Linked DNA regions of Homo sapiens. The protein of the gene in region 2 purifies or fractionates together with the protein of the main gene of each other region. This does not show direct contact. Each region holds a gene or a part of one and is shown on either strand. Other genes may lie near its edges. The genes, in order: METRNL, EPDR1 and SEMA3C.

Region 1 (3,165 bases), on a different chromosome or scaffold from region 2:
AGGAGGATGGACCAGGATTCCAACCCTTTGCCGACCCTCCCCACCGCCCTGGAGACGAGGTGCAATGTGTCCGTGAGCAGCGCGTTCCGCAGCCTTTATGAGCCTGGCTCCTGTTAATAATTGTCTCCCGATTGTCTCCCGGCGTCCACCGGCGTCCACCCTGCATTCTCCGTGAAGGTGACTTCTGCTTTGTAAAGCTCAGAATCAGAACAGGGAGGTCTCCAGGGTGCTCCTTACGAGCTCAGCTGTCGTTGGGTCGTCTCCAGAGGCTTCTAGCAGGCGAGGCTGCAGGCACTGACCGTCCCCGGCCCCACACCCCTGCCGTCAGCCGGGTGAGCCAGGGCGGGGTACCCAGGGCACGTGAGGGCAGCGTCTCCATCCTCCCCCTCGGCCGTCCGCTGAGGTCGTGGGGCCGTGACTCACAGAGGGCGAAGTGCTAGGGCTTGCATACCCTCACGCGCCCAGGCCCCGGGGTGGGACGCATGTGGCTGGGCCTGTGGGCTCCCCTGCCCCAGGGTGGGAGCCACACACCCCCGCCCCGCCCCAGGGTGGGAGCCACACACCCCTGCCCCGCCCCAGGGTGGGAGCCACACACCCCCGCCCCGCCCCAGGGTGGGAGCCACACACACCCCCGCCCTGCCCCAGGGTGGGAGCCACACACACCCCCGCCCTGCCCCAGGGTGGGAGCCACACACACCCCCGCCCTGCCCCAGGGTGGGAGCCACACACACACCCCCCACCCCCCGCCCCAGGGTGGGAGCCACACACACACACACCCCCCCACACACACACCCCCCGCCCCACACACACACCCCCCGCCCCACACACACACACCCCCCGCCCCACACACACACCCCCCGCCCCACACACACACACACCCCCGCCCCACACACACACACCCCCGCCCCACACACACCCCCGACTGTGCTGCTGACTGTGAGGATGGACTTCCGGCACCTCCTGCCTCCTGCCTTTGCAGGACCGCCTGGCCCAGCCCCAGCTGCCATGGCTGCCCAGCCGGAGGGTGCTGCTCAGTGAGGGGACCCTCGGGTGGACTGGGGTCACCACGCTTCTGTCGTTGACCAGCTCTCTCTCAGCCGAGGCCACCTCCACTCACATGAGGCGCCCTGGGCTGGGACCTCTGGCCCTGTGGTACGGGGCAGGTGCTGGCGTGCAGTCTCACCTGTGGAGGATAAAAGTGCTGCCTGAAATTTGAGATCCCCCAGTGCTCCCTCCTTGTTGCTTCCGGACGTGAGTGGTGGTCTGTGCTGCTGGCCTCTGTCCAGCACGTGCCTGCATCAGGCCCAGCATGGTCTGCAGACCCCCAGCCGGCGAGTGGGATGGGGGTCCACATAGGTGAACTAAGTGTCAAGGGTGGGCCACACCCCGGGGCCCCCATAGGAGAGCGCACCGGGCGGCTTCCAGCTTGGGGGTCAGGAGGCCCCCGTGGTGGGGGCTGCAGTGTGAGTCTGTACACATCAGCAGGAAGGGGATTTGGCCAGAAGCTCCCATTCTGGAGGGTTGCTGGGATGGCAGAGGTGCCCCCCCAGTGCCAGGCTGGACCGGCCTCAAGGTGCTCAGCAGTGCCAGGCTGGACCGGCCTCGAGGCGCCCCCAGTGCCAGGCTGGACCGGGCCTCGAGGCGCTCAGCAGGCTGTGCAGTTTCTTTTTCCTGATACCTTAATGGAAGCAAATGCAGGAGGAGGTGGGTGGGCCGGTGAGTCAGGCACTGAGCCCGGCTGGGAGGCGCCCTCACCCCTGCCTGGCGGAAAGTGCTGGCCTTGTCTCTGGGTCCCTCCTACCTCCACCCTGCGGGGTCCACAAAGACCTGCGCTTGCCCAGTGCACCGTAGACTCCAGGGTCTCCGTTGACCACATGTGCAGGCCCTGAGGGTCCATGTAAGTTCCTGACCCCAGAAGGCCTCTGAGCAGCTGTCCCCGCCTTGGCCAAGGTGCCAGATATGTGTGCTGCCCTGTCCCCTGGGACCCCCAGTCACCAGCAGCTGGCTCGGGCCTGTACTCATCAGGCAGGTGACAGCTCAGCTCACTTCAGCCCAGCAAGGGCAGCCGGCCAGGGGTGCAGACGGCGTTAGCTTCTTCCAGGGCCGGCGAACCCCAAGTCAAGGTCGTCCCAGCTCTTGGCCAGGGACGTTTCAGAGCCTTCAGAACGTGAAATGGCACCGGCGAAACCAGTGCCATTGAGATTTCACGTCTCAAAGTTTCTATTGCGTTAGGAGACTTGGGGCCAAAACCTAGAGGCTCAGAACAGGTGAGGCCTTGAAACCTGCAATAAGAGCAAATAATAAAACCATGTTTTCCAAGTCCGTCCCGAGTGTAGGAATGCGGGGCGTGCAGAGGTTTCTGTTTCACAGTGGCCCGCCCATCTAAGAAACTGGGGCGAAGGGCAGGGCGAGGGCTGGGCCGAGGGGAGAAGGTTGTTGGGAAAGCCTGGTTTGGCCGGTACGGGAGCTCATTCTGAGAAGCCTCCGTGCTTTCCGCATTCTCTGGGGGAGGCCAGGCCCCGCAGGGTTCAGGGGCTTCAGAGGGGGTTCTGTGAGCAGGGCTTGGCTTGAAAGCCATTTGGGGCATGCACCTCATCCCGCGGCCAGGTGGCATCCGGGGAAGGGGCCGGGCCGATGGCCCTGACTGGAACTCACTGCCCTGCTGGGTGAGGCCCCACGCCGGTGGCAGGTGGACGCGTCGCTGCCTGCTTAGGGATCCCCTTCCTGGAATCTTGGCCTCGCTGGCCCTTCCAGCCACATGGGGGGTCCCGCGGGATGGGATCCTCCTTTTGGGTGCCGCTGCCGTCGCGACCCAGGGAAGTGGGCAGCAGAGCTGTGGGGAGTGTCTGCCCTTCGAGGAAGCTGGGAAATGAGGGTGGTCCCGGCGCCGTGGGCCGTGGAGGTGGGTTGGGGGCGACTCTGGGAGGTGGGGGTGCTCCTGGCGCCGTGGGCTGTGGAGGTGGGTTGGGGGCGACTCTGGGAGGTGGGGGTGCTCCCGGCGCCGTGGGCTGTGGAGGTGGGTTGGGGGCGACTCTGGGAGGTGGGGGTGCTCCCGGCGCCGTGGGCTGTGGAGGTGGGTTGGGGGTGACTCTTGTCTGGTGGGTTCGGTTCAGCCCCAGTGGGCTTTGCATTTGCAACAGGCACGTGAGCGATTTCTCAGTGAGT
Region 2 (3,658 bases):
ACTGGGTAATTTATAAAGGAAAGAGGCTTAATGGACTCACAGTGGCAGAAGAAGGAAGAGCAAAGGGACTTCTTACGTGGTGGCAGGCAAGAGAGAGCTTATGCAGGGGAATTCCCATTTATAAAACCATCAGACCTTGTGAGACTTATTCACTACCAGAAGAAAAGCATGGGAAAGAACCGTGCCCATTATTCAATTACCTCCCCCCAGGTCCCTCCCATGACACATGAGAATTATGGGAGCTACAATTCAAGATGAGATTTAGGTGGGGACACAGCCAAACCATATTAATGACACTTCTGTGATCCTGTGGATTTGGGGAGTGATGGCGATGATTTCAAGAAGGAAACCCCCTCTCCTGCACATGGCTACATATTCTCCAGGGAACAACTATTGCAGTCTGAGAAGCACACAACAGGGATATCAGCAAAAGCTAGGAATGCCTTTCTAGCCCAGATATCTAGCACTGGGGAAAGCACAAGATATTGCTGGTGGTGAGGAGAACAATGAAGACAACTTGTTTTTTGGGTGGCCCACGGGTCATTAAAAGTATCACAGGACAGGATTTGTGTATGGACAACAATTCCCATATTTACAAATGAACAATGCTCTAAGAGTTGGGTTAATGTTGCTGTGTTTCTTCAATCAGTGCTTAGGCTCTATTGTGTCAGAGATTTAGCTGGTTATGAGAAAACAGTGACAATCCAAACCCAAACTTTTTCAAAGGGCTAACAGTTTTACGTTGACCCTGCATGCATATTATAAAAAATTAGCTCCATTTTTGAGCAATATCTCATAAAATGCACACTTATATTTCTTTCTATATTCATTCTCATTTCTAAAGGTATGTGTCTGGGTTATTTTTACCCTTGTAAGCCGTTTCAAATCTTTTCTGAAATAAACAAGATACACATAAAGGTGTAAAATGATGTCATGTTTATATTTCCATACTACCTCATAGAAACCTGAAGCATACGGCTACTAATAATACAATGATGTGCTTCATAATGACGTTTCAGTCAATGAAGTGGTGGTCCCATGAGATTACAATGGAGCTGAAAAACTTCCATTGCCTAGTGACCTCATAGCCATAGTATGTGGTAGCGCAGTGCATTACTCACATGTCTGGGGTGGTGGTGGTGTAAACAAACTTACTGTGCTGTCAGTTGTACACAATTCTAGCATATAAGTAATTACTGTATTATACTTTTTTTTCTTCAACTTTTATTCTAAGTCAGGGGTACATGTGCAGGATGTGCAGATTTGTTACACAAGTGAACGTGTGCCATGGTATCTTGCTGCACGGATCATCCCATCACCTAGGTATTAAGCCCAGCATCCATTAGCTATTCTTACTGATGCTCCCCCTCCCCCAAGCTCCACCAACAGGCCCCAGTGTGTGTTGCTTCCCCGACGCGTCCATTTGTTCTCATCATTCAGCTCCCGCTTATAAGTGAGAACATGCAGTATTTGCTTTTCCGTTTCTGTGTTAATTTGCTGAGGATAATGGCTTCCAACTCCATCCATGTCCCTGCAAAGGACATGATCTTGTTCCTTTTTATGGCTGCATAGTATTCCATTGTGTATATGTACCCCATTTTCTTTATCCACATTTTCAGTCTATCATTGATGGCATTTAGGTTGATTCCACGTCTTTGCTATTGTGAATAGTGCTGCAATGAACACAGGTATGCATGTATCTTTAGAATAGAATGATTTATATTCCTTGGGGTATATACACAGTAATGGGATTGGTGGGTTGATGGTATTTCTGGTTCTAGGTCTTTGAGGAATTGCCACGCTGTCTTCCACAATGGTTGAACTAATTTATACTCCCATCAACAGTGTAAAAGTGTTCCTTTTTCTCCACAACCTCGCCAGCATCTGTTGTTTTCTGACTTTTTATTAATAGCCATTCTGACTGGCATGAGATGGTGTCTTTTTGTGTTTTTGATGTGCATTTTTCTAATGATCAGTGATGTTGGGCTTTTTTTCCTATGTTTGTTGGCCACATGTATGTAATTACTATATTATACTTTTATCGTTATTTTAGAGTGTGCTCCCACTTACATAAAAGGTAACTGTGAAACTGCCTCAGGCAGGTCCTTCAGGAGGTATCCAGAAGAAAACATTGTTATTATAGGAGGTGACAGCTCCATGCATGTTACTGGCCCTGACAGCCTTCCAGTGGGACAAGATGTGGGAGTGAAAGAGGGTGATACTTATGATCCTAACCTTGTGTAGGCCTGGCTAATATCTGTGTTTGTGTTGTAATTTTTAACACAAAGTTTTTTTTTTAATAAAATAAATTTTAAAATAGAAAAAAGCATATCAAATAAGGACATAAAGAAAATATTTTTGTATAGCTGTGCAATTTGTGTTTTAAGCTGTCTTACTACAAAAGAGTCAAAAAGTTTAAAAAATCAAAATGTATATAAAGTTAAAAAGTTACAGGAAGCTAAAATTAATGTATTATTGAAGAAAGGAACATAGTTTTTATAAATTTAGTGTAGCCTAAGTGTACAATGTTTATAAAGCCTACAGAAGTGTATAGAAATGTCCTAGGCCTTCACATTCTGTCACCACTCACTCACTCACTCACCTACCCAGAGCAACTTCGAGTCCTGCAGGCTCCATTCATGGCAAGTACCCTATACATGCGTACCATTTTTTATATTTTATCCCATATTTTTACTGCACCTTTTCTATGTTTAGATACATAAATGCTTACCATTGTGTTACAGTTGCCTCCAGTATTTAGTGCAGTCACATGCAGTACAGGTTTGTACCCTGGGAGCAGTAGGCCATACTGTGTAGCCCTGTTGTGTAGTAGGCTGTACCATCCAGATTTGTGTAACTGCACTCTATGATGTTCGTGCAGTGATGAAATAGCCTAATGACACATTTCTCAGAACATAAGCCTATCATGAAGTGACGCACGACTGTGTTTTGACTATAAAGACAGTAACCATTTCTAACATTTTTTTCCGAAGAAAATAGTTTTTAAGCTCGGGCTTGGGCTGGAGAGCAAATGTCTTCCCTGAAGTCTCCTCTAGTGCATTGGGTCTCATAAGCCACAGATAATTTGTTGGCTATTTTTATTTGCTGATGACAAGTCACTTCTCTAGGCTCTTCAGCCCTCAAGTGTTGCAGATTTCACTTTCTGAGGTCATGGCTGCAAGACACATTTTCTTGACCAGCAGCTGTGGCCTGAGTTTTAGATTGACAGTGAAATGCATAGAAACACAGCAGGCTTCCCCCAACACCAAGATGTCTCAGCTTTAAGGAAGATACAGGACTGATGCCAATACTGCATGGCTGGTGACTCCTGGGCTCAGCCTCTGAATATCTCCCTGTCACTCCCCAGGAAGGGTGAGCAGGTGGTCACGGGAGGAGGCTGAGAGCATGGAGAGAAACTCAGCTAAGGGAGTCATTTGCTCTGGGGTCGCCTCAGCTTTTGTCTTTGCTCTCATCTCAGCCACTGCAGGGTATGTGGGCTGCGCCCGTGCCGGATCAGCTATGCGCATCAAAGCCCCTTACTCATGACTGCTCGGCAGTGGAGGCAGTGAAGCACAGGCACTCGGTCCATCCAGTCCTCAGTGTGTTCTTGTCCTATGTTCAGTATACCCCCATAATTCCTTGACTGAGTGCTGTGAGA
Region 3 (3,658 bases), about 43 Mb from region 2:
AACAGATTCATTCCATGATTGCTCGAATATGTCCTGTAAGTATTAATGCTGTTCCGATTTGAAGAAAGACCAAGAAATTCAAATTATGGTTTATCTCCGTGCTTTTATTATCAACCATTACAAATAAATAAAATATTGAGGGAAGCATTTAATGTAACATTTATTCATCATCATTATTATATTTAATATTCATCATTTTATATTGAATATAGTGTTTATAACCCCAACCCAAATTCTAACCCTCAATAAGTTATATGAGATAAACATACCCTATTTTAGTAAAAATCTTAATTCAAGAAAATATTTTGTTTTTGTTCTTGAACAAATAAACACTTCTGACAAATTTTTGCATATTCATTTAATGCATTGGTATTCAAACCAATAGCTAAATTGCATATTACCTAAAGAAACTGATTGTTGTCAATAAAATACAGTAAATATCTCAGTAAGAGATGATTATTAAGGAACCATTTATAAATAGTGAAAATTAAGAAAAGCTTTAATAAAATTCTAATTAAAAACAGTAACCAAAATGCTCTTGTGTAGAAACAATAAGTATACATAGCAACACAAGAAAATTTGTGATGTCCTTTCTATAATAGAGTTTTACAGACTTATCCTGACTTATTTATGATTAGCATCCTTTGTGAAAAAATGTTTCTTAAAGTGCTTAGTGTTTAAAATAGTTTATATATTATAATACTCCACTGATCATGGAGCTCAACTGTTTCTCAGTCATTTGCAACAAGGCAGCGAAGTCAGCAGAAGGGGTAAAAGGCCTTTGGACACAGGAAGAAAATGTCTTCACTGGAGACTATTTGTGAATGATCCAAATGCCATTTCTCCTTATAATGTATAATTAGGCATCAGATTAGAAATACTGAAAATTATGTGATAATTTGGATAAATGAAGGAGTGAATGTAAAACTGTTGGGGACCATTTTGTGTAAAGATATAATCACTCTCCTGACCACAATCTGCAAAACTCACTGTGTATAATAATTTATGTTCAAATTGAAGACAATAAATTATCAAGGAAAGGCAGATTAAATGATCTATTTTCTATAACATTATATAAATACTTCCATTGTACATCGTTAAAATTAGAAATAATTATGTCACACATTTATCAAATAAATGTATTTTCAGCTGACATCATGCTATAAGAGAATAATAGTATAACTATTGTATAAAATACTATAAGTCATAAATATTCCTCTTTGACAACTGATGTGCAGAAGTGGTTAACATATCCATTCTTCAGATTTTCATCCTCCAAGCAACTAGAGTACAAGTCGAATTTTTAATGTGCTTCAATATTTACTTAAGCAATCTGAATTATGTTTACAAAATGGTTTTAGAATGACACTGGTGGACTGCGTAGCCTTGTCAACAAGTGGACCACTTTCTTAAAGGCGAGGCTGGTGTGCTCGGTAACAGATGAAGACGGCCCAGAAACACACTTTGATGAATTAGGTACATACATATGAGATTGAAAAATGCTTCTGAAAGAAGGCTTGTAAAGTTTATATATTTAAATAAGGTCTCAAAAGAAGATGTACTTTCCATATTTTCAGCATAAATAATATGCTAATTTAAAATAATTATCTAGATACTGTTCATAAATTTTCTTAAGTATTTTGTAATCTGTTACGCCCATGAGTGCACTGCTGAAACATTTAGCTCATTGAATTCACCATAATATATGAATGAATGTGTGTGTTTGGGGGTGTAACTTGTATAATGTGTGTATAGGTAATGATATGTTTGTGTTTTTATAAATGAATATTTATTTCATGTATATTAGAATATCTAATATTCTGATTTTGTGTGAAAATACAGCTATATATTTTTACTATTGTAGCTAATGGACAGGATAGAGTTTGGATGGAAAAAAGTGTCAGAGTAGAAATTTGGAGACTTGTGTTCCCTTCTTAGTTCTGCTTGGTGACTCTGAGATTAGATATTCTCAATGTGACATGAGGAGGCTTACACTTTCCAGGTCGAATAAGGACTGACAGTCTGATTCCCTCTGCCAAGGAACAGTTTTTTTATTTTTTTAATCTGAATATCCCAGGGCACATCATATTTACTAAATGTCATTTGTAAATGACTTTTCTTTCACCTTAATTCATTAGAAGGTAAAATAATGGTCATTCTCAGATTTTGAGACAGGTGATAAGTTATAAATCTGTGTTACCATGTGGAAAAAATTTACTGATTCTAATAGTAATGAACTATATCGTTCTTCTGATCAAAAACCATTATGTTGATTATGGAACAAAAGTTTCTAGATAAGCTTTTCTAGAGAAAAGTTCTAAGTATCATTTTGTGAAACAGGCTACTTGCTCATTCTACTCCCCTGAATGTTTGGGAATATATTTTATGTTTCAGTCTTTCTTTTTTTTTTAGGGAGAGCTAGACATTGTCAGCCTTTATTCACATATGGAAGGACTAGTGATTGTTAATTTGTTGTTTGAGTGGTTATAAATTTATTGCTTATGAGGTCATTTAAATTCATTTTTAATTTAAAATAAATACATATTTCTTTGTGTTTCTCAGTAATAATTCTGTTAGCAAGATTGTCACTATGTCTGGGCCTTTCATATAATCATGGCAATTGATTATTAATTGGAGTTTTCTATCAGAAATCTACTTTCATATTCTGTTATTTATCACTTCACTGTGCATACTTTTGTTTTTGCCTTACTACACTTTAAACATCTTTTTGTTAGAGGAGCTATCATTAAATAAAAGTATCACTAGCAATTTTGACCATATGCCACAAAAAGTTCTATTTGATGGTAAGATGAGTTACCGTGAAAAAGTTTTATTCCATCTTCCAGCTCCTAAGATTAGATCAAAAAGAAATTGAGATTTGTAATTTTTTTAATTAAAACAGTAATATATTAACATTAAAGGATATTTAGAAAGAAGCACCAGAATATTTCTACAGCTTTGCCTCTTGTAACACTCACTGTTAATCTTATTCTTATATTCTGATGGATATTTTTAAGGTTAATATGGTTCTAGTCCATATTATGTAATATATCATTGTACTTTTTCCCCATAATATTATTTTACTAGCATGGTTTTCACAAGGATACAAAATTTTCATAAATTCCATTAGTATCTGTATTAATTTAATTTAATTTAGTGTTTCTATCATTATTTGTTTCCAAATTACCATAATGGTACAGGAATATCTTTTTGCAGAGTACTTTTCAGAGTTGAAATTATTTTCTTAGGGTAAATTTTTCAAAACAAAGAAGTTAATATTTAGAAACTTTAAAAGAATATTTTCCTTTTTATAGAGGATGTGTTTCTGCTGGAAACTGATAACCCGAGGACAACACTAGTGTATGGCATTTTTACAACATCAAGGTAATTATTCAACAGTTACATTTTATGAGTTAAACAATAAACTTCATGGAGTAACAGTAATTATTATAAAAGCATTCTTCTCTGCAACTTTTAATTTTACATGTCATTTGGGATGTAATCCTTCCATTTTATTTACTTTTGCCTGATTACCAAAATATATTGGAGCTAAACTAATGCTTTCCAAATACTTTTGTAGAGAGTATTTGTAATGATTGCATGATATTTTTATCAAACAAATCAAAATAATGAATTATAATGTAGGAAAAAATACGTG

The links.
Region 1: the proteins of EPDR1 (region 2) and METRNL purify together in Homo sapiens (affinity purification with mass spectrometry; one large-scale study listed by BioGRID and IntAct). This does not show direct contact.
Region 3: the proteins of EPDR1 (region 2) and SEMA3C purify together in Homo sapiens (affinity purification with mass spectrometry; one large-scale study listed by BioGRID and IntAct). This does not show direct contact.

Annotation. Positions count from the first base shown.
Region 1 is NC_000017.11:83,089,609-83,092,773, forward strand, and holds part of METRNL (meteorin-like protein isoform 1 precursor), read left to right. Parts: intron 1-3,165. UniProt on the Homo sapiens protein: Hormone induced following exercise or cold exposure that promotes energy expenditure. Induced either in the skeletal muscle after exercise or in adipose tissue following cold exposure and is present in the circulation.
Region 2 is NC_000007.14:37,944,507-37,948,164, forward strand, and holds part of EPDR1 (mammalian ependymin-related protein 1 isoform 1 precursor), read left to right. Parts: intron 1-3,658. UniProt on the Homo sapiens protein: Binds anionic lipids and gangliosides at acidic pH.
Region 3 is NC_000007.14:80,800,483-80,804,140, reverse strand, and holds part of SEMA3C (semaphorin-3C isoform 2 precursor), read left to right. Parts: coding exon 1-35; intron 36-1,361; coding exon 1,362-1,476; intron 1,477-3,314; coding exon 3,315-3,384; intron 3,385-3,658. UniProt on the Homo sapiens protein: Binds to plexin family members and plays an important role in the regulation of developmental processes. Required for normal cardiovascular development during embryogenesis.